7 separate regions of the Homo sapiens genome follow, and regions 1, 2, 3, 5, 6 and 7 are each linked to region 4. The links come from fine-mapping of genetic effects on gene expression. A gene starts in region 4. Each other region holds a variant in brackets. All regions are shown on one strand. Distances are from middle to middle. Region 1 overlaps STKLD1 (serine/threonine kinase like domain containing 1). Region 2 has its middle 19 kb from the start of SURF6. Region 3 overlaps LOC124902298 (a long non-coding RNA gene). Region 4 holds the start of SURF1 (SURF1 cytochrome c oxidase assembly factor). Region 5 overlaps SURF6 (surfeit 6). Region 6 overlaps STKLD1 (serine/threonine kinase like domain containing 1). Region 7 has its middle 40 kb from the start of OBP2B.

Region 1 (4,066 bases), 24 kb after region 4:
CCATGCCAGGCACACAATGGCTTCCTGATTGTACCAGTCACAAGATTGGTTACTTTCTTGTTGGAAACCAGTTGGGAGGTGGATGCTGGAAGTTGAGGTCACAGAGGTCTATAGAGAGTGAATAAGCCCTTTTTCTCTGGGAGGTTCTTGCACTTGAGTGCCCAGCTGGTCCTCATTGCAGGTTGGGGGAGGGATACAGGGTTGTAGAAGAGCTCCAGAATCGGCCCCAAATAGGTGAGATCAGAGTTCTGCCATTGAAAGGCTTCTTGCCCTCCTTGGGCCATTTCCTCTATTGCAAGATGGGGTGGAGCCACTTGCTCTGCCAGCCTGACAGGGGAGTTAGCAGGGCCAGAAAAGGAGTTGGAGCTGGGCTTTTGGAAAGGGAAAAGTTGTGTGCATTTCCTGAAAGCTTCTCTCTTCCTTGCTGATAGGTTTTGTACCAGCTGAATCCTGGGGCCTTGGGGGTGAACCTGGTGGTGGAGGAAATGGAAACCAAAGTCAAGCATGTGATAAAGCAGGTAAGAGGCCAAGCCTGTGCATCCCATGCCGGGTGGTTCTGTGACTGTGATTTTCCCCAATACAAGCTCTTCCCATGTTGGAGAAGCTTCCTGATGCGGCAGCTGGATTCCTCGCTGCTGACACTTGCGGAGACTAATCTGGTTGGGGTAGATGTGGGGGTGCGTGAAGCTCTGTCACCTTGATGGGGAAGCAATGCTAATTTTTACTCCAACACCACCACCTCCCACCATTTACGCATCACGTGCTGTATGCCAGGCACTGACTCACTTCATCTCCCGTCAACCCTGTAAAGCAGAAACAATGACCCTGTTTATAGCCAAAGACAGTGAGGCTCAATGCAGCGCCAGACTAGGCAAGGTCACACAATTTCCAAGAGGATTTGAATTCAGGCCACCTCACTGGGGGACACCGTGCTACCCAGTGCTGGGTCACCAGTTTTACCAAAAGGGAGCCAGGCCCAGAGAGGATGGGGACTGGCTCAAGGTCACACAGGGCTAAGGTCACACACCAGGCCCTGAGCCCTTCCACCACACTCCTCACCAGGGCTAGCAGGGCATGGGGAGGTGTAGGCCTGCAGGAAGACAGCCCTTTGTGTGTCCGAGACAGGGAGGTCCAGATCAACAGAGGGACTAGGGTGAGAAAGCTGCTGCAAGAGTCCCTGGCATGCCCTCCTCTCTGTGGTGGTGGCAGGGACCCAGCAGGTTCAGGGCTGGCCATACAGCGGGAGGAGCCTTGTCAGCAGCTGCTACTGGGCCAGGCCTCAGTCCGTACAGCTCCGCAGTCTCACCCTGTATGGCTGGGCCTGGAGTCCTTGCCCCTGCCCTGCTCCCTTGCTGGCTGGCTGTGGGGTTGGCCCCCTTGTCTCACAAGCCACTGGGGCAGTGTGGCTGACTGCCCTCTGAGCAGTTAAGGAGCTTTTTTTTTTGTTTGGAGATGGAGTCTTGCTCTGTCGCCAAGGCTAGAGTGCAGTGGTGTGATCTCAGCTCACTGCAACCTCTGCCTCCTGGGTTCAAGCAATTTTCCTGCCTCAGCCTCCCAAGTAGCTGGGACTACAGGCACACGCTGCCACGCCCGGCTAATTTTTTGTATTTTAGTAGAGACAGGGTTTCACCGTGTTGCCCAGGCTGGTCTCGAACTCCTGGAACTCCTGAGCTCAGGCAGTCCGCCCGCCTCGGCCTCCCAAAGTGCTGGGATTACAGGCATGAGCCACCGCGTCCGGCCTGAGGAGCTTTTAAAAATGTCAGCCATGACTAGGCATGGTGGCTCATCCCTGTAATCGCAGCATTTTGGGAGGCCGAGGCAGGCAGATCCCTTGAGGTCAGAAGTTTGAGAGCAGCCTGGCCAACATGGTGAAACCCCATCTCTACTAAAAATACAAAAATTAGCTGAGCATGGTGGTGGGTGCCTATAGTCCCAGCTACTTGGGAGCTGACGCGGGAGAATTGCTTGAACCCGGGCGGCGGAGGTTGCAGTGAGTCGAGATTGCGCCACTGCACTCCA[G/A]CCTGGGTGACACAGCGAGACTCTGTCTAAATTAATTAATTAATTAATTAAATTAAAAATAAAAATATCACCCAATTATTTCTAAATAAAAATTGGGGAAAGAGAGTGTAGGTAGGAGTTTATGGGTTCTTCCAGTCTTTTTTCCTAAGCGTTTGTAAACTTTTTTGGATTCAGGAGAATGGTATCGTTAAAGTTGATAGCATCCTTTTTATATTGCAAACATAGTTTCATGTCATTCCCACAGCCTCCTCCTCTCTTGGCTCTGGCAACTGTGTGGCCTCCCGTCTTGCTTGATGTGCTGTAACTAACCCAAGCCATCCCTATCACATGGGCTGAGCATTGAGCTTGTTCTCAATTTTTCACTTTGTGTAAACAGCTCTGATAAAGATGCTTATGGCATTATGGTTTTGTTTGTTTTTTTGTTTTGTTTTGTTTTGTTTTGTTTAGCATCCATGATTTCCTTAGGAAAAATTCCTAGGAGTGAGATTTCTGGGTCATACGATGTAACTTTTTTTTTTTTTTTTTTTTTTTTGAGATGGAGTTTTGCTCTTGTTGCCCAGGCTGGAGTACAGTGGTGTGATCTCAGCTCACTGTAACCTCTGCCTCCCGGATTCAAGCGATTTTCCTGCCTCAGCCTTCCTGAGTGGCTGGGATTACAGGCACGTGCCACCACATCCAGCTAATTTTGTATTTTTAGTAGACGGGGTTTCTCCATCAACATGGAGAGGATGGTCAGGCTGGTCTCGAACTCCCGACCTCAGATGATCCGCCTGCCTCGGCCTCCCAAAGTGCTGGGATTACAGGCGTGAGCCACCCCACCCAGCCGCTTTTTTTTTTTTTTTTTGAGACGGAGTCTCACTCTTGTTGCCCAGGCTGGAGTACAATGGCGTGATCTCGGCACACTGCAACCCCCTTCTCCCAGGTTCAAGTGATTCTCCTGCCTCAGCCTCCGAAGTAGCTGGGATTACAGGCATGTGCCACCACGCCCGGCTAATTTTGTATTTTTAGTAGAGACAGGGTTTCTCCATATTGGTCAGGCTGGTCTCGAACTCCCAACCTCAGGTGATCCGCCTGCCTCGGCCTCCCTAAGTGCTGGGATTTCAGGCGTGAGCCACTGTGCCCGGCCACAATGTAACATTTTCAAGTCTTTCCATGTTTTGGCCAACTTCACCTCCTCATATGCCCCCTAGGACAGGAGGAAAGGAAGACAGGAAGGCTCACTCAGTGTCTTTGCCCTGGATTCCACGGGACAGTGCCACTGGCATCTCAGGTCTCTCCATAGATCTGGGAACAATTCACTAACTTTACATGATGGTCTGCATTCACCCCATTATAAGAGTACTTCATTCATAAGTCTTTTGAGCAAAATTCTGGGTGAGGATCTGGTATTAGAGCCAGTGGTAGTATATACCTAGGGCCTGTGCCACCAAGCGTGCTGCAGACTCAAAGCTCCGTGCTGCCCTTGCCACCACCCTTCCCTTTCCATGCCCTCCCCACCTCCACCCGGAGAGGGCACAGGAGAGAAGAGCACTGTACATTCCATGCGTGGAGACAACCTTCCCCATGTGGGTAAGGAATGAAGTGGTGAGATTGATGCTTTCCCAACCAGAACAAGATGTTCCTGTTTAAAGACGGTCTGAAAATGGATCCTTTACTGAGTTCTTGGAGCGTATATTATGCTGTCCTAAACTTATCTTTGCAAAAGGAGCAAAGATGTTCTCATTGCTCTAAGTATTTTTAGATCTCTGCCTTAGGAATATCTTCCATTTGTGCCATATGGTGGGGGCAGGAATGGTGGGAGCCTGTCACTCCTGCTAAATAGTGATGATGGTGGTGATGATGGAGGTGGCAATGATGGTGGTAGTGGTGGTGATGGTGGTGGCAGTGATGATGGTGATGATGATGGTGATGATAATGGTGATGGTGGTGATGGTGTGATGATGGTGATGGTGGTCATGGTGATGGTGTGATGATGGTGATGGTGGTCATGGTGATTATGGTCGTGGTGATGATGTGATGATGGTGGTGGTGGTGTGATGGTGATGAT
Region 2 (4,066 bases), 39 kb before region 4:
CCCATTACTGGGTATATACCCAAAGGACTATAAATCATGCTGCTATAAAGACACATGCACACGTATGTTTATTGTGGCATTATTCACAATAGCAAAGACTTGGAACCAACCCAAATGTCCAACAATGATAGACTGGATTAAGAAAATGTGGCACATATACACCATGGAATACTATGCAGCCATAAAAAATGATGAGTTCATGTCCTTTGTAGGGACATGGATGAAATTGGAAATCATCATTCCAGTAAACTATCACAAGAACAAAAAAACAAACACCGCATATTCTCACTCATAGGTGGGAATTGAACAATGAGAACACATGGACACAGGAAGGGGAACATCACACTCTGGGGACTGTCGTGGGGTGGGGGGAGGGGGGAGGGTTAGCATTGGGAGATATACCTAATGCTAGATGACGAGTTAGTGGGTGCTGCACACCAGCATGGCACATGTATACATATGTAACTAACCTGCACATTGTGCCCATGTACCCTAAAACTTAAAGTATAATAATAATTTTTAAAAAATGTTTTTCTTTGGGAACTCCTATTCTGTTTATATCAGAGCCTCTCAATCTATTCTCCATATATGTTACCTTTGAGTGTGTGTACGTGTGCATTTGTATATGTGTGCATGTGTGTGTATGTGTGTGTATGCATGTGTGTGTATATGTGTGTGTGCGTGCATGTGTGTGTATTGTGTGTGTGTGTGTATGTGTGTGTGTGTTGTGTTTTTCAAAGCTGCTGCACTCTGGTTGGTTTCCTCCACTCCATTTTATTGCTAGATACAGGCTGGAGTCTCTGAATCTATTTGTAACACCTCAGTTTCTCTTTTGAATTTTTCTTTCTTCATTGACTATGTTAGTACTATCTTCCATGACACTAAGTCTCTTTTCTACTATGTCAAGTCTGGAATTTATCCTATCTATTGTGTTTTTTATTCACTCTACTCTTCATCTTCAAAATTTATAATTATTTCTACTTTCTCTCTCCTTATTTCTTTATATTCTGGCCACTTCTAATTTTATACTACTTTTTAAAAAAAAAGTCTGGTGTAAGTTCCTGTACCAATTGCTCATTTTTAGCCTGCCTTTCTTAGTGTGGTGTTTCCTTGGGTAATTTGGAAACTGGCCTTGCTTATTTCAAGGTGAGGATATTGTGTCTCTGCATTTCTGCCTTTCTCTGCCATCTTGTTGTCATTGTCCTCTGTCTAGCAGTGTTTTGTAGCCTCTGCTCCCATCCTGGGTCCCAGGCTTCTGCTCTGCAGTGATGCAGAGCATGTCACAGATAAAGTCATCCTTTCCGAGGACGGCTTGTCTCAGCTTCTGCCCTTGAGGCTGTGTTGATGTCCTCTTGCCTTCCTATGCCCACAGTGCTCCACTAAGTTATACGAAGTTACAGCTCTGGGATGTATCAAGGAGGGTTTCTCAGCCTCCTTTCTGGAGTCAGGGAAGACACACCCATCACTCCCAGGAGGTGGATCTAGGCCCTCTCTGCCTGCCTTGGGACTTGGAGCTGACAGGCCCCTGCCTCTGCCCCATCACCAGCCTGTGCTTCTCCTCCATTCCTTGTTTTATGTGAGTGTGTGTGTGTTTGTGCATGTGTGTGCATGTATATATGTACACACCTGCATACACACACACACACCTGTCTTGGTCTTCTGTCTGTCTGACCTATTGCTGCTCTGTGTGTGGAGCAGAGAGGGTCCTTACTGCACACCTTGCTCAGGACAGTGGACACCGTCCTTAAATGCACACGGTATCGTGTTCACACAGGAGGGTCCCTTTTTTTCCATGATGAATCTGAGGCCAAGTAACCTGCCCAGAGATGCAGGAAGCTCAGCCGAGCCCCAAGCCCACGACCCTCGGACTCCAACCCCAAACCCCCTTGACGGTGTGCACGTCAGCCCGTGTGGGATGGCTGGGGGGCGCCTGTTACTGCCGCACATGTCCCCAGGAGGCCTGCACGCCCTTCACTCCCTTCAGTTTCCTCCCAGGTGAAATCTGCAAACCCGCTCCTCTGGACCTGGTCCTGTCCGGATGATCCTCTGGAATTAACAAGCTGTTATTCACCAGCCTCCAGCAACAATGGCACGTTACCTGCTCCATTGCAGAACTGGCCGTGGTTTACATCCAGGAAGGGATTGGTCAGTCACCTGTGCCAGGTCCCCGGGGGATCCTGAGCCCAGCGGTATAAAGGGTGGCTGTGGGAGTGGCACACCCTCTCCCAGCCCCAGCAAGCAAACCGTCAGGCGGCCGTGGACTCAGATCCCGGAGATGAAGCCCCTGCTCCTGGCCGTCAGCCTCGGCCTCATTGCTGCCCTGCAGGCCCACCACCTCCTGGCCTCAGACGAGGAGATTCAGGATGTGAGGCTTGGATGGGAAGGGTGGGCTGGAGGGGGCAAGGGGCGAGGCTGAGACTGCTGGATG[G/A]AGACCACATCCCTCCCCCATCCAAGGAGACCCTCATTTTCGGGTTGGGCGTAAAAGCCCTGCCCTGAAAGATGGTGAGATGGGACAGCAGGAGTCTGGGCTGGGGGGACAGGGATGCAGAGGGGCAGAGCTGGGAAGGTGGGGGTCTGGCTGACTTCACTTCTCTCCTGGGGGTGAGGGCTCCTGTGGTCCTGGCCAACTTGTGGGGGCTGGAGCCACCTTCGGGTGGACCTGGCGAGGGTGCTGGGTGTTTTCTGGGTGGATTAGATTGGGGAATGTTCCCCGTCTCCAGCCTGTGGGGTGCGGTAGAGTCTGGGGGCTGCAGGCCAGGGAAGGGGGAGGCTCTGGAGCGGTCGGCCTGAGCCTGATAGAGAGGGGCCTTCTCCAGGTGTCAGGGACGTGGTATCTGAAGGCCATGACGGTGGACAGGGAGTTCCCTGAGATGAATCTGGAATCGGTGACACCCATGACCCTCACGACCCTGGAAGGGGGCAACCTGGAAGCCAAGGTCACCATGCTGTGAGTGTCTGCCAGCCGGCCGGCCAGCCTGCAACCTGGTCTAGGGCCTTCCCTTTCCCCACCCAGGAGAGCTCTGGTGCTGGGGAGGTGGGCAGACCTGCTGGGAGGCCTCTCTCAGCCCCTCCTACAAGGCTCGGCAACTGGCAGCCTTGAGGGCAAACTGTGCCACTGAAGAACCTCAGCTGGAGGGACCCTGAGGGGGCAAAGGCCCCGGATCAGACCCTGTGAGCTACCAGGGGCAGTGCTGGGTACCACCCACCTCCTCCTAGGACTGAGGAATGTGATCTGCGTGCTGAAGCCTTCTGCTGAGCTGGGGCAGAGGTTTCCGTCTCCACCACCCCCCATTCTCTCCGACCTTGTCAACACCCTCAGATGAAAGTCGAGAGCAAAGGGGCAGTGCTCAGCAAGATACACCTGACAGAGAACGCTCAATGATGCCAGCTGCTGTCATTATTGTGCTAATTAAATACAGAGTAATTCTGGAAGAAAGTGTAAAATAATAAAAATAATAGCCAGGTGTGATGGCTCAGATCTGTAATCTCAGCACTTTGGGAAGCCAAGGCAGGTGGATCACTTGACGTCAGGAGTTTGAGACCAGCCTGGCCAACATGGCAAAACCCCATCTCTACTAAAAATACAAAAACTAGCCAGGTGTGGTGGTGCACAGTTCTCCTGCCTGGTGGTTCACATGATTCTCCTGCTTCAGCCTCCCGAGTAGCTGGGATTACAGGCACACACCACCACACCCAGCTAATTTTTTGTATCTTTAGTAGAGATGGGGTTTCGCCATGTTGGCCAGGCTGGTCTTGAACTCCTGACCTCATGATCCACCCGCCTTGACTTCCCAAAGTGCTGGGATTACAGGCGTGAGCCACTGAGCCCAGCTGTAAGGTTCTTATACTAGATGAAGGTAGACTGTGATAAATTAAAGACATACTATAAACCCTAAAGCACCTGTTAAAGTCAACAAACAAACAAGAAAACAAAAGACTGTCAGTGAATAAGACAACAAATAAACTGAAAAGATTGTTTTAAAAACTAAATTCAAAAGAAGACCAGTAAGAGGGAAAGGGGCCTGGCGCAGTGGCTCACGCCTGTAATCCCAACACTTTGGGAGGC
Region 3 (4,066 bases), 840 kb after region 4:
GAAATAGAAAATGGAAAAGCAATAGGAAAACATAATCAAGGAAACCAAAGTTGCTTCTATGAAAAGATTAATATAATTGACAAGGCTCTGATCAGACTGATCAAGAAAAAAAGAGACACAAATTACCAATATCAGAAATGAAAGAGGGGATATCATTACAGATCCTACAGATATTTAAAGGTTAATACAGAACATTATAGGCTGGGCGTGGTGATTCATACCTGTAATCCCAGTGCCCTGAGAGGACAAAGCAGGAGGATCACTTGGGAGGCCAGGAGTTTGAGACCAGCCTGGAAACATAGCAAGACCCTGTCTCTACAAAAAAAATTTTTTTTAATTAGCTGGGCTTGGTGGTTGTGCCTGTCATCCCAGCTACTCAGGAAGCTAAGGCAGGAGGATTACTTGATCCTGGGAGTTAGAGGCTACAGTGAGCTGTGATCGCACCACTGTACTCCAGCCTGGGTGACAGAGCAAGACCCTGTCTCAAAGAAAAAGAAAAAAAAAAAAAAAAGAAAGTTGGTATTAAAACAATAAAACGATAGAAAATATTTGGAGAGTTTTAAGCAGGGGGATGATGCAGTCAGGTTTGTGACTTTTGGAAGGTTCATTCCAGCTCCCCTCCATAGAGTAGATAGGAGAGTTGCTGGAGCAAGGTGGGCAGAGTAGTTAGAAGCCACCTTAATCATGTAGGCAATGATGTGCATTAAGGAGCTGGTGCTGGCGCTGGTGCTGGTGGTGATGGCAGCTTCTGGAGGAAAGTCTGATGGGATAAACAGTGTAAAGTGATCACATCAACTAACGTAGGGACAGACTAGATTTGGGGGTGAGGGTTTGAGGTTTCTGGTTTCTGGTTTCTGTAATTAGGTAGATGATGAGATAGAGAACACTGCAAGAGGATTTCCTACAAAAACCAAGCCAACAGACAAATAGCTGGGCATGATTGTGTGGGCCTATAGTCCCAGCCACTTGGTAGGCTGAGGTGGGAGGATTGCTTAAGCCCAGGAGTTAGAGTCTGCAGTGAGCTATGATCGCACCACTGCACTCCAGCCTGGATGACAGAGAGAGACCTTGTCTCTAAAGAAATAAACAAAAAGAATGTTACAAACAATTTTATGTTCCCACATTTTACGACTTAGAAAAAATGGGCAAATTCCTTGAAAGACAGTTACCAAAGCTCATTCAAGAAAAAATAGATGGTACCATATAAATTAAAGAAATTAAATTTGTTGTTAAAAACCTAACAACAATACAAACTCTGGGCCTAGACGACTTTCCTTGTGAATTCTACCAATACTTAAGAAAGAATTAATGCCAACTCTACACTATCTCTTCCAGAAAATGGAAGAGGAGGGAACAATTACCAACCCTTTTTATGAGGCCAACATTACATTGATATCAAAACCAGACATTGCAAAAAAAAAAAAAAAAAAAAAAAGAAAAAGAAAGCTATAGAGCAATATTCCCCATGAGCAAAGACACGTAAATCCTCAATAAAATACCAGCAAATCAAATCCAGCAATATATGAAAAGGATAACACATCTGACCAATGAGGTTTATGCAAGGATGCAAGTCTG[G/T]TTCAACATTCAAAAAACAATCAGGGCTGGGTGCAGTGGCTCGCATCTGTAATTCCAGCACTGGGAGGCCAAGGTGGGTGGATCACTTGAACCCAGGAGTTGGAGACCAGTCTGGGCAACAGGCAAAACCGTGTCTCTATGAAAAATAAAAAAAATTAGATGGGCATGGTGATGCACACTTGTAATCCCAGTTACTCGGGAGGCTGAGGTGAGAGGATCACCTGAGCCCGAGGAGGTTGAGGCCGTAGTGAGCCACTGCACTCTAGCCTGGGCAACAGAACGAGACCCTGTCTCAATAATAATAATAATAATAATAATAATAATAATAATAATAATAATAACAATAATCAGACCAGGTATGGTGGCTATAACCCCAGCACTTTTAGGGGTTAAGGTGGGAGGATCACTTGAGACCAGGAGTTGGAGACTAGCCTGGGCAACAAAGTGAGACCCCTATCTCTACAAAAAATTAAAAAAATTAGCTGGGTGGGGGAGCACACCCATGGTCCTGGCTATATGGGAGGCTGAAGCAGGAGGATTGCTTGAGCTGAGGAGGTTGAGGCTGCAGTGAGCTGTGTTTGTGCCATTGCACTCCAGACTGGGTGACAGAGAGAGAGAGAGAGACCCTGTCTCAAAAAAAAAAAAGGAATTAATGTAATTCATCATACCAACAGATTAAAAAAGAAAAACCATATGATCATCTTAATAGATATTGAAAAAAGCATTTGACAAAATTCAACATCTACTCATGAAAAAAACCTCTCAGCAAACCAGTAAGAGAAAGGAGTTTCTTCAACCTCATAAAAGGCATCTACAAAAAACCTGCAGCTAATATCTAATTAATAATGAAATACTAAATATTTTCCAAGATCAGAAAGAAAGCAAAGGTATGCAGTGTCATTATTGTACTGGAAAGCCTAGCCAGTGGAATAAGGCCAGAAAAAGAAATAAAAGATATACAAATTGGAGAGGAAGAAATGAAACAGCTTCTATTTCCATTCAATATGATTATCTATATAGAAAATCTCAAAAAATCTATGAAAAAGTTATTAGAACTAATATTAGTGTGCCAGGCATGGTGGTGTGCACCTGTAGTCTCAGCTACTCAACAGGCTGGTGTGGGAAGATCATTTGAGCTCAGGTGTTTGAGACCAGTCTGGGCAATAAAGTAAGACCCTTTCTCTAATAATAATAATAAAAGTAGCACACTGTTTCTGGTCACCTTTGAGACTGGCTTACTCTGGGTCTGTTGCTCCAGACTCAGCTTTCTTAGACAGAGCTCATTTTGTCAAGTGCAGTGGCTCATGCCTGTAATACCAGCTACTTGAGAGACTGAAGTGGGAACTCCAGGAGTTTGAGGCTGCAGTGAGCTATGATTGCACCACTGTACTCCAGCCTGGGCAACAGTGACCCCATCTCTAAAAAACCCAAAAAACCAAGTGTAGCGATGTCATAAGATACAAGGTCAATATAAAAAGAAGTAATTATAATTTTGTGGACCAGAAATGAATCCTTTGAAATTGAAATTAGAAAGGAAACAATACCATTTACCATAGCACCAAAACCTGTAAAATGCTTAGGTATAAATTTAACAAAACATGTACAATGTCATTATGCTGAAACTGAAAAACACCAATGAAAGAAATCAAAGAAGACCTGAATGGAGAGATATACTATGTTCATGAATTGAAAGACTCAATATGGTTAAATTGTCAATTATTCTGAAATTTGGGATTTAATACAATCTCGATCAAAATCTCAGCAGGAGTGTTTATAGAAATCAACAAGCTGATTCTAAAATGTATATGGAAAGGCAATAGACTAGAAGAGCCAAAATATCTTTGAAAAAAGAACAAAACTTGGAGGGTTCTCACTGTCTGATTTGAAGAGTTACTTTAAAGCTATGATAATCAAGACAGTGCAGTGTTGGCAAAGGGTATACAAATAGATCAGTGGAACCAAAATACACTACCATGTATATATACTTAATTTATTTTCATCAAAGTTACAATATAACTCAATATAGGACCATCTTTTAAACAAATGATTCTGGAACAATTGGACATTTGTATGCAAAAAAAAAAATGAAATTTGACTCACACATTGCACCACATACAAAAATGAACTCAAAACACAACCTAGGCCGGGCACAGTGGCTCCCGCCTGTAATCCCAGCACTTTGGGAGGATCACCTGAGGTCAGGAGTTTGAGACCAGCCTGGCCAACATGAAGAAACCTTGTTTCTACTGAAAATATAAATATTAGCTGGGCATGGTGGCCCACGTCTGTAGTCTCAGCTACTTGGGAGGCTGAGGCAGCAGAATTGCTTGAACCCAGGAAGCGGAGGTTGCAGTGAGCCAATATCGTGCCACTGCACTACAACCTGGGCAACAGAGCAAGACTGTCTCAAAAAACAAGCAAACAAACAAAAAACAGAACGTAAACTAACTTTTAAATCTGAAACTATAAAACTTTTAGAAGAAAACAGAAA
Region 4 (4,066 bases):
TCTTCCGCTTTTGTGGCAGATGCTTCTGCTGCAGAACTGCCACATCTGCTTGGCCTCCAGGCCACCCCTGGAGAGTTTCACAACACTGACATGGAGCCAGAAGCCCTCGAACACAGACCTGGAGCAGCCCGTTCCAAGACAGACTCCAGTACTGCCAATCAAAACCTGCTGCCTAGAGCCAACTAGCAGCACCTGTATCCAGCCCAGCTCCTAACCCGGTGCCCAGAACAAGGCACACACAGTACGTCTGCCAAGTGAGTAAGTGGGATCTAGGGCTCAGTGCCGGTTTGACCACCAACCACGACCCTGAGTAACTCATGCCTTTTTACTCAAGAATCTAGATGTATTCCACTGCACTAAGATGCACCATTCATCCATTCAAAATGCATTTAATAAGCAGCTACAGTTGGCCGGGCACGGTGGCTCACGCCTGTAATCCCAGCACTTTGGGAGGCCAAGGCGGGCGGATCACGAGATCAGGAGTTCGAGACCAGCCTGACCAACATGCAGAAACCCCATCTCTACAAAAAAATGCAAAAATTAGCTGAGCACGATGGTGCTTCTGTAATCCCAGCTACTCGGGAGGCTGAGGCAGGAGAATCGCTTGAACCTGGGAGGAGGTGGTTGCTGTAAGCCGAGATTGCGCCACTGCACTCCAGCCTGGGCAACAAGAGCGAAACTGTCTCAAAAAATAAAAAATAAGCAGCTACAGTTACTAAGTAGCTTAGTCAGGCACTAGTGGTTGTTGTGTTATGTAGAAAAATATATCAATTCAGTAATGGCTCACAGAGCTCTCTTAACAGCTTTCCATTTTTACAACTCATCGTAAATGTAAAGAGGGAAGAATGTACACAGAAAGTGCCTTTAAGCTCTCAGAGGATGAGTTCCATCCGCTGAAAAGCACCAGGGGCCTTGCGGATACTATTTTTTTTTTTTTTTTTATAAAAAGGCAGGCCTGGGGCAGGCTTGCACAGCACTCTACACACGGCAAAACAGCCCTGTGCTGCACACTGAGAGGAACACGTAAGCCGCGGTGGTTAGATACGCTTTACTTTCAGAGCCCTGGGCTTTCAGCCTGGGCTGGCCACCCATTAGCTGGATGGGACGTTCGGAAGTAACTCTCGAGCCTTCTCTGTAACAGGGGAACGACCAAGGAGCTACCTCTCGCGTTGTGAGGACAAAGCGCTCGCTACATGCCCGGCACACGACCACAATTCCACTGAAAGCATTTTAATACGGAACTTGTCACTCCCAGGGAGCCTCCGCTCAGCCGGCAGTTGGTTCATTTCAATCCCCACGACAACCCTTCAAAGTGCAGGGCAGACAGCAGGTGGCTCTGCCCAGGCGCCTGGATCACAGCCCGGCCTGCAGCCCTCACCTGGGCGCGGGGAGACCCTGAGGACGCTCCTCCAGGCGGCGCTGGCCGGGGCCTGCGGACACGGACGGGCGGGCTGAGCTCCGGGACCCCTCCCCGCGCCCCGCACCCCGCACCCCGCACCCGGCGCTCACCCGTCCCAGCCCCGCCGCCCGCAGCCCCAGCTGCAACGCAGCCACCGCCGCCATCGCACCCGGCCCCGCGGGCGCTTCCGGGACGCAGGAAGCATCTGCATCCGGGGCGCCGCTGAGTCCCGCCCAGAGCCCCGCCCCCGGCTCCAGGTTCTGCGAGCGGCTTCCGCCGGGCTGCTCCGCGGGCGCGTCGGCCATGAGCGAGTTGCCGGGCGACGTGCGGGCGTTTCTGCGGGAGCACCCGAGCCTGCGGCTCCAGACGGACGCCCGCAAGGTTCGCAGCGCGGGAGGGGAACGGAGTGGCGGAGAAGGGCGCAGTTGGGATGAGGGGCTGAGGGGAGGGCAGGGGAGAGGAGAGGGCAGGGGAGAGGGGAGAGGGGAGAGCAGGAGAGAGGGGAGGGCAGGGGAGAGGGCGCGGCGGGATCAGGGGAGGAGAGGGAAGGGGGCGCGGCAGGAGGGGGCACCAGGGAGCGGAGCCCTGGCCCTCCTGACGTCCTGCCCGCCCACGCGTCCGCAGGTGAGGTGCATCCTGACAGGTCACGAGCTGCCCTGCCGCCTGCCGGAGCTCCAGGTCTACACCCGCGGCAAAAAGTACCAGCGGCTGGTCCGCGCCTCCCCGGCCTTCGACTATGCAGAGTTCGAGCCGCACATCGTGCCCAGCACCAAGAACCCGTAGGTGGTCCGCGGCGGCGCGGGGAGGCCCAGGGCAATTAGGACAGCCCCTCCGCTGGACTCCGCCAGTGCTGCAGCCCCTACTCTTTCAGAGTTGGGAGCCCTGGGACCCAGGTGGGCGCCCGGGTGCTGGAATCACCTGCGGTCCCAGCGGCGAGGCCTCTTGGTGAGCTCGTTTGCTCACCTGAGGTTTGTCCTGTGGGGTGTGGCTGCTTCCCAGATGAGTAGAGGCTTGTGATTTGTCACCTGAGGTTGTGAACAGCGTTGGGTTCTTCCCTTAACCCCAGAAGGGGTCTTTGATTTAGCTGGGAGCTAGGCTTTGTAATAATCGTCAAAACAGAGATAGGATGTTTCCATTCATTGAGCCCTTGCTCCAGGTGGAGCCATCCTCTTGCATGAACTCATCCTGGAGCAGTCAGTGAGGCTGCCATGCGTGCTTTTCCGGTAAACATTAAGAGGCTGCAGTCGGCCTGGGTCAGACGGTTCCCCACCCAGCTTCAGAGTGGAATTGCTCCGGGAGCCTTTAAAAGCCCGATGTCCAAGCCGCATGGTAGACTGTCCAGGGATGAGTCCAAGACACAGCCACCAGTCTGAATCCTTGCTGTGAACTGTCCCTACAAATTTGGTCTCTCTGCTCTGTAGGCACCAGTTGTTCTGCAAACTCACCCTGCGGCACATCAACAAGTGCCCAGAACACGTGCTGAGGCACACCCAGGGCCGGCGGTACCAGCGAGCTCTGTGTAAATGTAAGTCCCAGTGGACCCCCATCAGTGCATCGCCATCTGAGTGCATGCCCGCCTTGCCCCAGATGGAGCGTGCTTGAAGGCAGGTCGTCCTTCAGCGATCCGTGTTGATGCATCAGGCCTGTTTTTTGGCACAGTGAAGAGAGGGATGATGGCCCCTGACCCCACAGCTTTTAGTGCAGGCAGGCACAGAGCCAGAAGCAGGCTCGGGAGTGAGTGAGTGTGCGTGGCAATGCGAGGTGTGAAAGAAACTGGGCGAGGGATGTGGGGTGGGCTTGCGGAGACAGGAGGGCTGGGGAGACTCGCTGAGGGATTCGCTCGAGGCTGAGGCTGGAGGGATGTGGTGGCAGTGGGGTCGGGGGAACAGCACCCCAGGGAGAAGCCAGGGTCCATGGAAGTCTGAGGCAAAAATGTGTTGGCTGAGGTAGGCTCCAAAGGACTGGCTGGGCTAGTGTGCACAGCCCGGATGACCCAGAGACCAGGCCAGGAGCACTGCAGTGGGTGTGTGGAGAGGGTTGGGTGGGGGCTGCATGGACAGTGTGCATGGTTGAGAAGGGAGGACTCCTTGACTGCGGTCATCCAGGAAAAGACGGTGGGTTTTGGGGGGAGAATTCAGAGTCCCTTTGAAGGTTTTAAGCTTGAGCTGTATTAGGAAAGGTGTGTATTAGGGAAGTATCGGGCTTTTGAAACAGGGACACCCGTGCTGGATGAAGGAGATGGTTGCACCGTGGATCTGGGTGAGCACCCGGCGAGAGTTTAGAGAAGGGAGAGAGGCCTGGTCCTGAGCCCCAGGAAGAGGCTGGAAGTCCTCCCGTGGTACTGAAGGGAAGATGAGGACAGAAAAATGATAGATTTGATAACACAGAGGCCCCTGGCAACCTTGGTGAGGCACCTGAAGCTTGGCAGGGACACCTGGCTAGAGTGGAGCGTAGGCTGCAGCCCATGAGGGCAGTGTCCGGCCTTAGGCAGGTGCTGGGTCACCAGAAAGCCTTTCTGGAGTCCAGCTAAGGAGGGAAATGGACAGAGGCTGGAGCGGACAGATTCAGGTTGGTTTGCGGATGGGAAGATGCGTCTACGGGCTTCTGATGAGTGCGGAGAGGCAGTCCAGCCCTCCCGAAGCATGAGTGTGGATTGAGAAGGCAGGA
Region 5 (4,066 bases), 28 kb before region 4:
AGGAGAACTGCTTGAACCCAGGAGACAGAGGTTGCAGTGAGCCAAGACCGCGCCATTGCACTCCAGCCTGGGCAACAAGAGCAAAACTCTGTCTCAAGAAAAAAAAAAGAAAGAAAGAAAGAAAAAAGAAAAGAAAATTGGCAAGGATACAGAACTTGAACTCCACTGGACCTGACATTAAAACACTTGACTCAACAAGAGCAGAAAACATTCTTCTCGAGCACACACAGAACATTTACCAGGAGAGACCACAGTCTGGGCTATGAAACAAACCCTGTTAACTTCAAAAAGATTCAAGTGGTTTTTTGTTGTTTTTTGATACACGGTCTCACTCTGTTGCCCAGGCTGGAGTGCAGTGGCAGGAACATGGCTCACTGCAGCCTCAACCTCCTGGGCTCAAGTGATCCTCCCACCTCAGCTTTCTGAGTAGCTGGGACTATAGGCATAGGCGTGGGCAACCGCCCCAGGGTGATTTTTTAAATTTTTTTGTAGAGACAGGGTCTCGCTGCATTGCCCAGGCTGACCTCAATCTCCTGGGCTCAAATGATCCTCCTGCCTCAGCCTCCCAGTATCGGGATTACAGGTGTGAGCCACCACGCCCCAGCCAAGGACTCAAGTTATACAAAGTATGTTCTCTGACCACAATGAAATTCAACTAGAAATCAGTAACAGAAAGATCTCTGGTAAATTCCCAAATATTTGGAAACTAAATGACATACCTTTAAATAACTCATTAGCCAAAGAATAAATCAAAGGGAAATTAGCAAGTATTTTGAACTGAATGAAAACACAACATATGAAAATTCGTCAGGTATCACAAAAGCAGACTGAACTTTTTAGACCTTACAAATGCATGACTGTCCCCCTTGCCTCTGATCTTCTGCCTGGGGTCTGCCTTTCCCCAATCTTTGTTCACTATACTGAATCCTACATGACACAGTCAACCTATGAAGAAATCCAGAGATAGACTCTCTAAAATAAATGGATTTGGGAATAGCAGCTTATCTGGAATACTGCAACCGTTGAGGATGGTCTTGCAGTGAGTCCTGTTATTGGTCTGTTTGTAGAAATGTCTTGTGGTAAGTCCTGTTGCAGGAATGTGTGCGTGAGGGCTGCTTCATCACCTCCAACTGTTTTAGTTTGACATAAGTGACTCCATTTTGGTACCGGCAACGTTCACAACTTTCCATGTGACTTCAGCACCCTGCACCCCGATCCTTTCCCTGGCCACTTTGCAGGACCACTACCTATGAGACTATGGGTTCCTTGAGAGCTAGGGCTGGGTCTCATTCGCTCCTGAAACTTTCACCCAGCAGAGTGATGGCCCACGCCATGCATGACATGCGTTGCTCAATGACTGCATCCACTCAGCCAGTATGCCAGTCCCCACTGAGCCTCACTCTCAACCTCCCTGGCTGGCATAGGTTCCTTGTGCAGACATCCAGTGGCAGTAAAATATTGCTGGGTTCTCAGCTTCCCCCACCTGCAGCCCTCACTGGCCCACCCAGTTGTCCTGTCTCTGCTCAGGACGAGACCCCCCCCCGCCTCTTCAGTCTCTGTAGCCAGGTGATGGCAGTGGCCTTTTCCAGACCCTCACTGGCCCCTTAGTTCACTATGATGACTTCACCTCTTGGGAACCCATGGGGATGTCTTTCCCTCCAATACATCTACATTTGCCTGACCCAGAATGTAGTTTCAAGATGGGTCCATGCCTGGCTCCAAATCCCCTTATCAGAGTAAGGAAATACCTTAATTCCTAGTTTGCTAAAAACTCGTTATAAATGGCTGTCGCGTCATTTACTGTGTTCCTGTTCTGCAACCATTGAGATGGTCA[C/T]GTGGGTTTTGCTCCTTTAATCTATTGATATGAATTACACTCTTGATTCTCTGGCATTGAAACTGCTTTGCAATTCTGAATTAAATCCAGTGTGGCACTTTGCTAAACTTGGTTTATTATTGTCTAAAATCTTGACATTGGTATTTGTAGGGACCAGCCCCACAGGGTCCGTGGGTCTCTCCCTCCCTGTGTGCAGCAATGAGAGAGTGTAGAAATACACACACAAGACAAAGAGATAAAAGAAAAGGCAGCTGGGCCCGGGAGACCACTACTACCAATGCTCGGAGACCGGTAGTGGCCCCGAATGTCTGGCTGCATTGTTATTTATTGGATACAAAGCAAAAGGGGCAGGGTAAAGAGTGTGAGTCATCTCCAATGATAGGTAAGGTCACGTGGATCACGTGTCCACTGGACAGGGTGCCCTTCCCTGCCTGGCAGCCGAGGCAGAGAGAGAGAGGAGACAGAGAGAAAGACAGCTTATGCCATTACTTCTGCATATCAGAGACTTTTAGTACTTTCACTAATTTACTACTGCTATCTAGAAGGCAGAGCCAGGTGTACAGGATGGAACATGAAGGCGGACTAGGAGCGTGACCACTGAAGCACAGCATCACAGGGAGACGGTTAGGCCTCCAGATAACTGCGGGCAGGCCTGCCGGATGTCAGGCCCTCCACAAGAGGTGGAAGAGCAGAGTCTTCTCTAAACTCCTCCAGGGAAAGGGACACTCCCTTTCCCGGTCTGCTAAGTAGCGGGTGTTGTTCCTTGATACTTTTTGCTACTGCTAGACCATGGTCCACCTGGCAACGGGCGTCTTCCCAGACGCTGGCGTCACCGCTAGACCAAGGAGCCCTCTGGTGGCCCTGTCCGGGCATAACAGAAGGCTCGCACTCTTGTCTTCTGGTCACACCTATGTCCCCTCAGCTCCTATCTCTGTATGGCCTGGTTTTTCCTAGGCTATGATTATAGAGCGAGGATTATTATAATATTGGAATAAAAGGTAATTGCTACAAACTAATGATTAATGATATTCATATGTAATCATATCTAAGATCTATATCTGCTGTAACTATTCTTGTTTTATATTTTATTATACTGGAACAGCTCGTGTCCTCTGTCTCTTGCCTCGGCGCCTGGGTGGCTTGCCGCCCACAGGTATTTGGTAACTTCCCTTTCTCTTACCTAGTTTTGGTATCAAAGCTAAGTTCACGAATGAAGTGTTCTCTCAATTGATTCTGTTAGAATTTGTCTACGTCTGGAATTACCTGTTCTCTATATCGTGGAACTTCCCTGTAAAACCGTCTAGGGGAACATTCTTAACTACTGACTCAATTTCATCAGTGATTACAACTCAGGCTTTCTATTACTTTTAGTCAGTTTTGGAGATTTTTCTTCCATTTACTTTGAGTTGTTCCAACTTAAGCTGCATGCTTATTTTTCTTTAGCTTTAAAAATACAGACATACAGCGTATGTGTGTATAAATGGCACTATTTATCTGTAGATGCACATACATTTAGGGGCTATGTTTTTTTGTGCTGCTTTAGCTCTGTTCCACAAATCTTAAATTTTTTCTTTTTGAGACAGTCTTGCTCTGTCACCCAGGCTGGAGTGCAGCGGCTCGATCTTGGCTCACTGCAGCCTCTACCTCCTGGGTTCAAGTGATTCTCCCGCCTCAGCCTCCCAAGCAGCTGGGACTACAGGTTTGCACCACCACACCCAGCTAATTTTTTATTTTTAATAGAGATGGGGTTTTATCATGTTGTCCAGGCTAGCCTTGAACTCCTGATCTCAAGTGATCCACCCGCCTCCCAAAGAGCTGGGATTGACAGCATGAGCCACCATGCCAGGCCCTGTTCCACAAATTTTAATACGTAGCATTTTCATTATCCTTTAGTCCCAAATATTTCTAATAGCCATTCGGAATTCTTTAACTCATAGGTAATTTATAAGTGTGTTTTAAAAATTCCAAATATGAAATGCCACTGCACTCCAGCCTGAGTGACAGAGCAAGACTCTATCTAAAAAACAAAAAAAAATAGCTCAAATTTTTTTTAATGACATTGGGATACGGTCAGATAACGACACTGATTCCTTGAAATATCTTAAGACTTCTTTTCTGGACAAAGTAGGTGGTCAGTTTCCATCCATGTTCCATATATGCATGGAAAGAGTATGTATTCTTTTCAGATACTGTTGTGTCTGTCTCTCAGCTCAAGCTCATGCTCACCTCACA
Region 6 (4,066 bases), 47 kb after region 4:
GCCTGACTGGCTCCCAGGGACCAGGATGCGTGGCCTGGCCGGGCAGGGCTCCCTTCCGGTCCTTCACTCCATTAGGCCACAGGGATTCATGGAGGCCTGCTCTGGGTCAGAACAAGGCAGACCTCGGTTTCCTTCATGCAAAGTGGAGATGCTATCCCCCAGCCTGTGAGCCTTGTGTGTCTGGCCCCATGCCTGAGCTGTGGGGCTAACCCCAGGCGTCTTCCTCTGGCTTGAGCAGCGCTGGTGCACCACCCGGAAGCCAAGGCTCCCTGCAACCAAGCCATCACCTCCACCCTGCTGAGTGCTCTTCAGAGCCACCCCGAGGAGGAGCCACTTCTTGTCATGGTCTACAGCCTGCTAGCCATCACCACAACCCAGGGTGTGTCTGCCAGCCACCTCCTGCCCCACCCACGCTCCAGGACAGCCCTTCCCAGGGGTCTTGGAAGGGTTGGTTTGGGGTATAGGTGGGTTGGACAGGACAGTGCTGGGCCTCCTCCTGAGATACATGGTGGCATTTGGCCGTCTTCATTTGGCCACCCCAAATGCTGGTCGCATCCTTTTCCATCTTGATGACAAGCTTCCACTCTTGAAGTCACTGGTTCCCTCTACAGACATGCTAGGCGCAGCTGTGGGCTTCACACCAATGACATCTCTTTCCCACACTTCCTGCCCCTTCTGGGAGGCTGGGGCTCAAATGCCCTGTGTGTCTCCATTCCATAGGGCCCAGTGGGCTTCCGAAGCCTCCAGCCAGGACTGTGGGAAGGAGAGGGCCATACAGAGCGCTCACACCTTCACCCACAAATCGGGTGGGCACTGTTCTCCCCAACAGGAAGCTGGGCCTCGAGAGAGCCTAAGGACAGTTGCCAGGAGTCCATGCAGCAGGGTTCAGGGCTGGGGTCTGGGCCCCAGCACCCTCTTTACTGCACAGACTGGATAACTGATGATACATGGCTGATCTCACTTTGGGGAGTGAAAGGAGGCACTAGGAATAGATGTCAACTGGAACCCTCAGGCAAAATGGATGTCAGTTCATCCTACCGGGATAGGGCCCCGTCATGGTTCCATCCTGGAAGGCACAGGCTGGCTCTGTGAGCCCAGGAGGCAGGGTCAGGCCCCCTGGATGGGAAGCTACAGAGGTCAGACCCAGCCTGGTAGTGGGATGGCAGCTATTGGGACTGGTGGCCCACGAGATGGACAGACTCCTCTGGGGCCAGTCCCACATCCTCCTGTTCAGGGCTCCATTGAGTGCACACGACTTGGCCCAGAGCAGGCACCTAGGATTGCAGGTCAAATGGGACTGCAGTGCCCAAGGACAACAGAGGCAGGAAGGCTTCCTGGAGGGAGGGGCCCTGGGGCCCTCATTCTGGCTCACCCACAGAGTCAGAGTCACTGTCAGAGGAGCTGCAGAATGCTGGGCTGCTGGAGCACATCCTGGAGCACCTCAACAGCTCCCTCGAAAGCAGGGACGTCTGCGCCAGCGGCCTGGGCCTGCTCTGGGCCCTCCTGCTGGACGGTGAGGGGCCCTCCTCCTGCTGTCCCACCGGGGCTGGCAGCCCTCCCCCAGCCCCTCCCTAACTGCCCCTGAGAGCCTTCGAGGACCTCCATGTCCTGTCCCTAAAACACAACAGCCATAGTCCGGGAAAGGCTCTTCTGAGAGCTTCCAACTCCAACAGAAGAAAATCAAGGAGCAGAGAGAGAAAAGGCAGGGGAGAAAGGCCTTCTGGCAGAGGCCGGGTTTCAGGACTTCTTGCCCAGTGGGCAGACCCCTCAGTTTTAAGTGCCTCCTGCCCAGGGAAATGTCCTGGGATTTTCCGGGCAGTCCTGGTTCCAGAGGGCAGCGGTGGTGTGGTGCTGGATGCCCTGTTTGTTTTGATTTTTGATTCACAGTAGGGGGCCCCCTGGCCTGTGCTGCTTCCTCTCCTCTAGACCCCATCTTGGCACTCCAGCGCCCCAGGAAAAAGAGAGCTCCAAACCACGGAAAGCCCGGGAAACCCAAGAACCCTGCCAGCACCCAAAGTGTGGGATTCTCCAAGCCTCTCCTGGGCTAACCCCTGCACCCGTCTCTGAGGACAGTTGACCTTTCCCACCCCATTTCTGCTGTTGTCGTTAGCTGGAGGAAGGCAGCAGATGGGGGATGGGAAGGCCCCCCTGCACACACCCAAGGCCTGGGTGTCCCCTTCCATCCCTGTCCTCGTTCCAGGTATCATTGTGAACAAGGCCCCCTTGGAGAAGGTCCCGGACCTCATCAGCCAGGTGTTGGCCACCTACCCTGCGGATGGGGAAATGGCAGAAGCCAGCTGCGGAGTCTTCTGGCTGCTGTCCCTGCTGGGTGAGCTGG[G/A]TGGGCGCCCTGGGCCCCTGGGGCTGGGAGGGGTGGGCCTCATGGCACAGCAGGCACAAGGCAGCCCGGCCCCTTTCTGCAGGCTGCATCAAGGAGCAGCAGTTTGAACAAGTGGTGGCGCTGCTCCTGCAAAGCATCCGGCTGTGCCAGGACAGAGCCCTGCTGGTGAACAATGCCTACCGGGGACTGGCCAGCCTGGTGAAGGTGTCAGGTGAGCCTGGGGACAGGACGAGGCTGCCACCTAGAGGTGGGGGCAAGAATCAGCCCCCATCAGTTACATCTGCCAGGTGCCACAAACCAAAAAACAGAAGCAACAAATCAAAAAGGAAAAGAAATTAAAAACGATCTGAAGTCCAGTCATCCAGAAATCACCATCAAGACTTTCACGCACACTTGATAAACTCTTGTCTCTGCGTTATGCTACCCTGTGACCCTCTCTCTGTCCATAAACACATCACATCTGCACAGGTTTCCTAACATGCAGGCACACCGTGACTGATCAAAACAGCTCTGCAAACAGTGTCTCCAATTCCCCACAACACAAACCCTGCCTGTTACTCAGCTAGACAGGCTGGGCCCAGCGCTGAGCACAGCACAACCGACGCTCGGCCCACAGCACAGTCCTTCAGAGAGCATCCTGGGCCTGGCCAAGACACTAGCTGGTGCCTGGCAACTCCGGGCTCATGGTCTTGACCTCTGTACTACCTAATCTTCCCCAGAGTGACAACGACCCCTTTGGCTCTGGGGGGGCTGCCTCCTCTGTTCTTGCATGGTCCTGTTCAGGTCATGCCAGCCTACTGGTCCGCCCAAGCTGATGGGGCCTCCTGGGTCCCGTCTCTTGTCCTGTCCCAGGCCCCTGTGTGAGCTCTGGGGTCCCATCCCGTCCTGGGCAGAAGGCTCTTCCCTTTCAGGGGAAAGCAGGGAATGAACCCACTCCCACCCATCCCCCAGAGCTGGCGGCCTTCAAGGTGGTGGTGCAGGAGGAGGGCGGCAGTGGCCTCAGCCTCATCAAGGAGACCTACCAGCTCCACAGGGACGACCCGGAGGTGGTGGAGAACGTGGGCATGCTGCTGGTCCACCTGGCTTCCTATGGTGAGAACCCCTTCTCACCTCACACTCCCTAGAGCCCAGCGGTCAGGGGTGCCCCGCTCCCCCTATAACTGACAGGGAAGGAGCACATGGAAGGTGGGCTCAACCCCACTTCTCGGCCCACTTAAACTTCCCACTCATTTGGCATCTTCTGAGCACCAGGGGTTGTCCTGGCTGAGGGTGACGCTTGGGGCTCCGGAACTGCAAGGTGGCTCTGTGCATGCCAAGCCCAAGGGGGAATGTGACCCACTCTCATCCTTCTGGGGCTTCTGGCAAGGGGCACAGGAAGGACTCTGGCCTCAGGACCTTCCTGCTCCACCTGCAGAGGAGATCCTGCCGGAGCTGGTGTCCAGTAGTATGAAGGCCCTGCTCCAGGAGATCAAGGAGCGCTTCACCTCCAGCCTGGTGAGTGACAGCAGCGCCTTCAGCAAACCAGGCCTCCCTCCAGGTGGAAGCCCCCAGCTGGGGTGCACCACGTCTGGGGGACTGGAATAGATGTTTGTATGGAACTGACCTTGATCTCCACGTGTATAGTTTTCAAGACTGCTCTCCTGCCTGCCTATTATCCCATCTCTATGACTGGGCCAAAATCAATCTTAAACGGGAGGGGTAATCAGACCTCTCCAAAGAGTTTCCTGT
Region 7 (4,066 bases), 110 kb before region 4:
GGGGTCAGTTCCCTGTCCTCAAGGAGCTCACTTTGACTCTGGGGCAAACCTAGTGTGGGTGGTCGGCATCAGCCATTGTCCATGTGGGGAGACTGAGGATCAGAGGGGCACATCCAGCCTGGGAAAGCCAGACCACGCGCAGCTCTTGGCATTGTCTTCACCTGCTCCGTCAGCAACACCACCCCCTGGGGGGCAGCTGGGTGACCCCCATCTCACAGCAGGGGAGACAGGGCTTCGAAAAGCCCCTGTGCAAAGCAGAGCTGGGACTTGAGGCCACCGGATTTGGTGCAGAGGAGACAGCTTGGATCCAGGGACAAGCTCTGCCAGCAGGGAGGACAGGACTGGGTGATGGGAGCTTAGTTTTGGAATAAAAAAATCTGCAAAGGAGCCTATCTGTCCAGTAAGCACCACAGAAACAGAGTTCCCAGTGGCAGCCACCATTCCTTGAGGGCCTCCCCTGTGTCTAGCACTTTCCAGAGTTTTCTCTCTGATTCCTCCACTCAGACCTAGTAGGGACAACTGCAGGGCCTGGGCTGCAATGGTGGGGCTGGGCTGCAGTGGTGGGCTGGGCTGCAGTGGTGTGTCTGGGCTGCAATGGTGGGCTGGGCTGCAGTGGTCGGGCTGAGCTACAGTGGTGGGGCTGGGGTGCAGTGGTGGGCTGAGCTGCAGTGGGTGCAGTGGTGTGTCTGGGCTGCAGTGATGGGCCTCAGCTGCAGTCGTGTGTCTGGGCTGCAGTGGTTTTTCTGGGCTGCAGTGGTGAGGCTGTGCTGCGGTGATGGGGCTGGGCTAGCGCTTCACGTGTGGGTCTCTCACGCCTGGTAAACCAAATGCCCTGCAGCAAGGAGTCCACACAGGAGCCTGCCAGGGGCGGCTGCTGATGGCTCCGGCTTCTGCACCACTTGCCCGGGGATGTGGGGGCTCCGTATACCCTAGTATTGTTACCAGAAAGGAGTCCCAGTCCAAACCCCAAGACAGGGTTCTTGGATCTCAGCTGAGTATACTTATACTGATTTCTGGATTATAGGCTCAACAACAGGTGGATTGTTTGTGAGTTTTCCAAGAAAGGGGAGGGGATTTTTCTGAACTGAGGGTCCCTCTCCTTTTTAGACCATATGGGGTAACTTCTGGACGTTGCCATGGCATTTGTAAACTGTTGTGGCACAGGTGGGAGTGTCTTTTAGCAGCTAATGTATTATAATTAGCGCATAATGAGCAGTGAGGACAACTGGAGGTTCCTTTTGTCGCCATCTTGGTTTTGGTGGGTTTTGGCTGGCTTCTTTACTGCATCCCATTTGATCAGCAGGGTCTTGGTGACTTGTATCTTGTGATACTAATCCTGCCAACCTCCTATCTTATCCTGTGACTAAGAATGCCTAACCCCCTGAGAATGCAGTGCAGAAGGTTCAGCCTCATTTTACCCAGTCCCTATTCAACATGGAGTCGCTCTAGTTCACTCGCCTCTGACAGTGATGATCTATCCTTTACTGGGGCTCAGCCTTCACCCACTGAGGGGCCCTGGATGGAAGCATGTGTTTGCTTGGTGGGGATGACAAGTCGAATTTCCCAGCCCCTGTGATCCAGAGGCTCTTCCAAGACACCGGGACTGGAGAGGAGTGGGGGGCCTAGATGGGGGTGGGCACGAGAGGCTGGTGATGGCTTCAAGAGGGGAGGGGCACACTTGCCAGGAAGAGGCTGAGTGCAGCAGAGAGCAGCGGGACTGACATTTGAGGCAAGGGTCCTGTGGAGGGAGGAGGGAAGAAGTTGGAGAGTGATGCC[T/C]GGAGGCCAAGGTGGCACCACTGGGCCCTTCCGCAGCTCCTGGGGGGAAACTGGGTTGGGCCCAGGTGAGCAGGAGGGAAGGGAGGGTTCACCCTGGGAGTGCAGGATGGGTGCTGGTTTAGGGTGAGGACCTGGGGAAGCAGGAGAGGTTAGGAGAACGACCACGCTGAAAGTGAAACCGCCTTTGCAAAAACTCTATCAATTAGAAAAATTGTAAGAGTGAGCTGAGCTAACCCGCCCCTCATCTTTCCTTTCCCTTAATGATTCCTGGGCTTTTGGGCTGAGCTAACCTTGGGAGACATTTAATTTATAGTTTAAATAACAGCAGGCCTCCCCCAAAACTCTTCTGCCTGTGTAAACCTAATGAAAAGCTATGAGGCGAGAGGGAGAAGCTAAGGTGTAGACCTCTCTAGCAAAATACACAATTTCCCCAACTGTAGATTGGTCTTTTGAGATATCTTTTCAGGTTTTTTGCAGGTCTGATACCCATGGCTCTACCTGGAACCCCCAACCTCACTCCTGTGACACCCCCCTAAGAAGCGATTTAGCCTGCAGGAGGACAGCTTTGACCCTCCATGAGTTCATGTCTGCCCCAGCCAATCAGTACCTGTTACTTGGCCACCCCTGACCCCCCAAACTGCCTTGAGAAACCCCTAGCTATGAGCCTTTGATGAGATGATTTGAGTACAAACTCTCTCTACCATGTGGTTGGCCTCATGTCTATTAAACTCTTTCTTTACTGGAATGCATGGTCTTTATTTAGAAAGGGAGCAGGAGGAACCCCTTGGGTGGTTACAGAGGGCAGGATGAAATCCCTTTGAAATGAGCAGTACAGAACTCCAAAGGAAGAGATGGGGTCTGTGTGTTTCTTCTGCCACCTGAAATAATTGAAAGGTTCAAAATCCAATGTTATAGAGTTTATTCGAACTCTAAGTTTGACGACCACCACTCAAAAAACACAGACTCTAAAGGAATGGGCTCAGTGCTCTGAGGTGGAGGGATTAGGGCTTCACTTAAATGGGAAAATACAAGGAGGTTTAGCATGATTACATTTTCCACATAAGATTGGCTTATGAGTTGCAGCAATTTGTTTGGTTATATCCTGTTCCCTTCGGGAAAAGTATATTTAACATACTGTCTTATGGAATTTGATAGGCATGGGGTCTTTTGTACCATCTGGTCTGAGTTGGGTGCAAGAAAAGAAAGAAGTTAATTCGTAACAAAAGGTCAGTAACTAAGAAAGGGAAGGGGTCTTACATCTGGTGCCATTTAGTCTTTCATAACATTTTACAAATCAAGAAAGGAAGAGCGTTAATCTATAATTGGAGAAGCAAAGTTCACAGCGACTTGCTGCTTGACTAGGGTGTCAGAATCACATTCTTTCAAGGCTCGAAGTAATTTAAAGTTCCAACAGCTTTAATCTGATGAGCTTATTGTCGACAAAAAGAGTCAAACTCTGAAAAATATTTGAAGAGATTTATTCTGAGCCGAATCTGAGTGACCAATGGCCCGAGACAGAGACCTCAGGAGGGCCTGAGAACATGTGCCCAGGGTGATCTGGGCACAGCCTAATTGTATACATTTTAGGGAGACATGAGACATCAATCAAATACATGCAAGATCCACATTGCTTCTGTCCAGAAAGGTAGGACAACTCGAAGGTGGAGCGGGGAGGTTCCAGGTTATAGGTAGATTCAAAATTTTTTTATTGGCAATTGGTTGAAAGAGTTATTATCACTAGAAAGGAGTGTCTAGGTTATGATAAGGGGTTGTGGAGACCAAAGTTTTATCATGCAAAGGAAGACTCCAGGTAGCACGCTTCAGAGAGTATAGATTGTAAATGCCACTAATCAGACTTAAGGTCTGTGTTAATGTTCATGCTGGTCAGCTTTGCTGAATTCCAAAAGGGAGGAGGACATAAATGAGGCATGTCCACTCCACCTTCTCTTCACAGCCTGAACCGGTTTTTCAGGTTAACTTTGGAGTGCCCTGGCCAAGAGGAGGGGTCCATTCCGATGGCTGGGGGAGTGGGCTTAGAATTTTATCTTTGGTTTACACTACTTTCAAGCTGCGAACATCATAAGCCACCTTCTGCCAGGTGTGGCCCTGGGGAGGGGTCCCTTAACATGTGATAGGAGGTGCCACCACGGCTAGGCAGCTACTTGTCATCAGGACACAGAAGAGCCTCTTGGACCTGGGGAAGGACCTGTGAGACTGTGAAGAGGAAAAGTCAGTTTTGAATCAAACCCATTTTATAAATAAGAAAAATTACAAAACGCTTCTCAGAAGG

What was found. PIP is the estimated chance that this variant, and not a neighbour inherited with it, causes the effect.
Region 1: its variant is fine-mapped to the expression of SURF1 in whole blood (TOPMed, PIP above 0.99).
Region 2: its variant is fine-mapped to the expression of SURF1 in whole blood (GTEx, PIP above 0.99). The same link has a PIP of 0.9 or more in substantia nigra.
Region 3: its variant is fine-mapped to the expression of SURF1 in testis (GTEx, PIP 0.98).
Region 5: its variant is fine-mapped to the expression of SURF1 in whole blood (TOPMed, PIP above 0.99).
Region 6: its variant is fine-mapped to the expression of SURF1 in whole blood (GTEx, PIP 0.98).
Region 7: its variant is fine-mapped to the expression of SURF1 in lung (GTEx, PIP above 0.99). The same link has a PIP of 0.9 or more in unexposed skin.

What each region holds. Positions count from the first base shown.
Region 1 is chr9:133,378,605-133,382,670 of GRCh38, forward strand. It overlaps STKLD1 (serine/threonine kinase like domain containing 1), which reads left to right. Exons shown (of 18, transcript NM_153710.5): 2 at 432-518. Among named protein-coding and RNA genes, the nearest start is that of STKLD1, 4.3 kb to the left of the region's middle. The variant G/A (reference allele first, on the strand shown) is at 2,020.
Region 2 is chr9:133,315,519-133,319,584 of GRCh38, forward strand. It overlaps the pseudogene LCN1P2. Among named protein-coding and RNA genes, the nearest start is that of SURF6, 19 kb to the right of the region's middle. The variant G/A (reference allele first, on the strand shown) is at 2,429.
Region 3 is chr9:134,198,044-134,202,109 of GRCh38, forward strand. All of the region lies in intron 1 of LOC124902298 (a long non-coding RNA gene), which reads left to right. Among named protein-coding and RNA genes, the nearest start is that of RNU6ATAC, 36 kb to the left of the region's middle. The variant G/T (reference allele first, on the strand shown) is at 1,576.
Region 4 is chr9:133,354,891-133,358,956 of GRCh38, forward strand. It overlaps SURF1 (SURF1 cytochrome c oxidase assembly factor), which reads right to left and starts at 1,597. Exons shown (of 9, transcript NM_003172.4): 1 at 1,510-1,597; 2 at 1,379-1,430; 3 at 1-67. The coding sequence starts at 1,563. SURF2 (surfeit 2) reads left to right here and starts at 1,660. Exons shown (of 6, transcript NM_017503.5): 1 at 1,660-1,780; 2 at 2,024-2,178; 3 at 2,821-2,924. The coding sequence starts at 1,703. RefSeq lists silencers at 1,399-1,518, 1,759-1,828.
Region 5 is chr9:133,326,847-133,330,912 of GRCh38, forward strand. It overlaps SURF6 (surfeit 6), which reads right to left. Exons shown (of 5, transcript NM_006753.6): 5 at 1,930-4,066. Among named protein-coding and RNA genes, the nearest start is that of SURF6, 7.3 kb to the right of the region's middle. The variant C/T (reference allele first, on the strand shown) is at 1,835.
Region 6 is chr9:133,401,500-133,405,565 of GRCh38, forward strand. It overlaps STKLD1 (serine/threonine kinase like domain containing 1), which reads left to right. Exons shown (of 18, transcript NM_153710.5): 13 at 239-379; 14 at 1,379-1,513; 15 at 2,201-2,329; 16 at 2,421-2,549; 17 at 3,290-3,430; 18 at 3,753-4,066. The coding sequence ends at 3,922. Among named protein-coding and RNA genes, the nearest start is that of REXO4, 14 kb to the right of the region's middle. RefSeq lists a silencer at 1,211-1,378 and an enhancer at 3,119-3,619. The variant G/A (reference allele first, on the strand shown) is at 2,339.
Region 7 is chr9:133,247,163-133,251,228 of GRCh38, forward strand. It overlaps the pseudogene ABO. Among named protein-coding and RNA genes, the nearest start is that of OBP2B, 40 kb to the left of the region's middle. The variant T/C (reference allele first, on the strand shown) is at 1,777.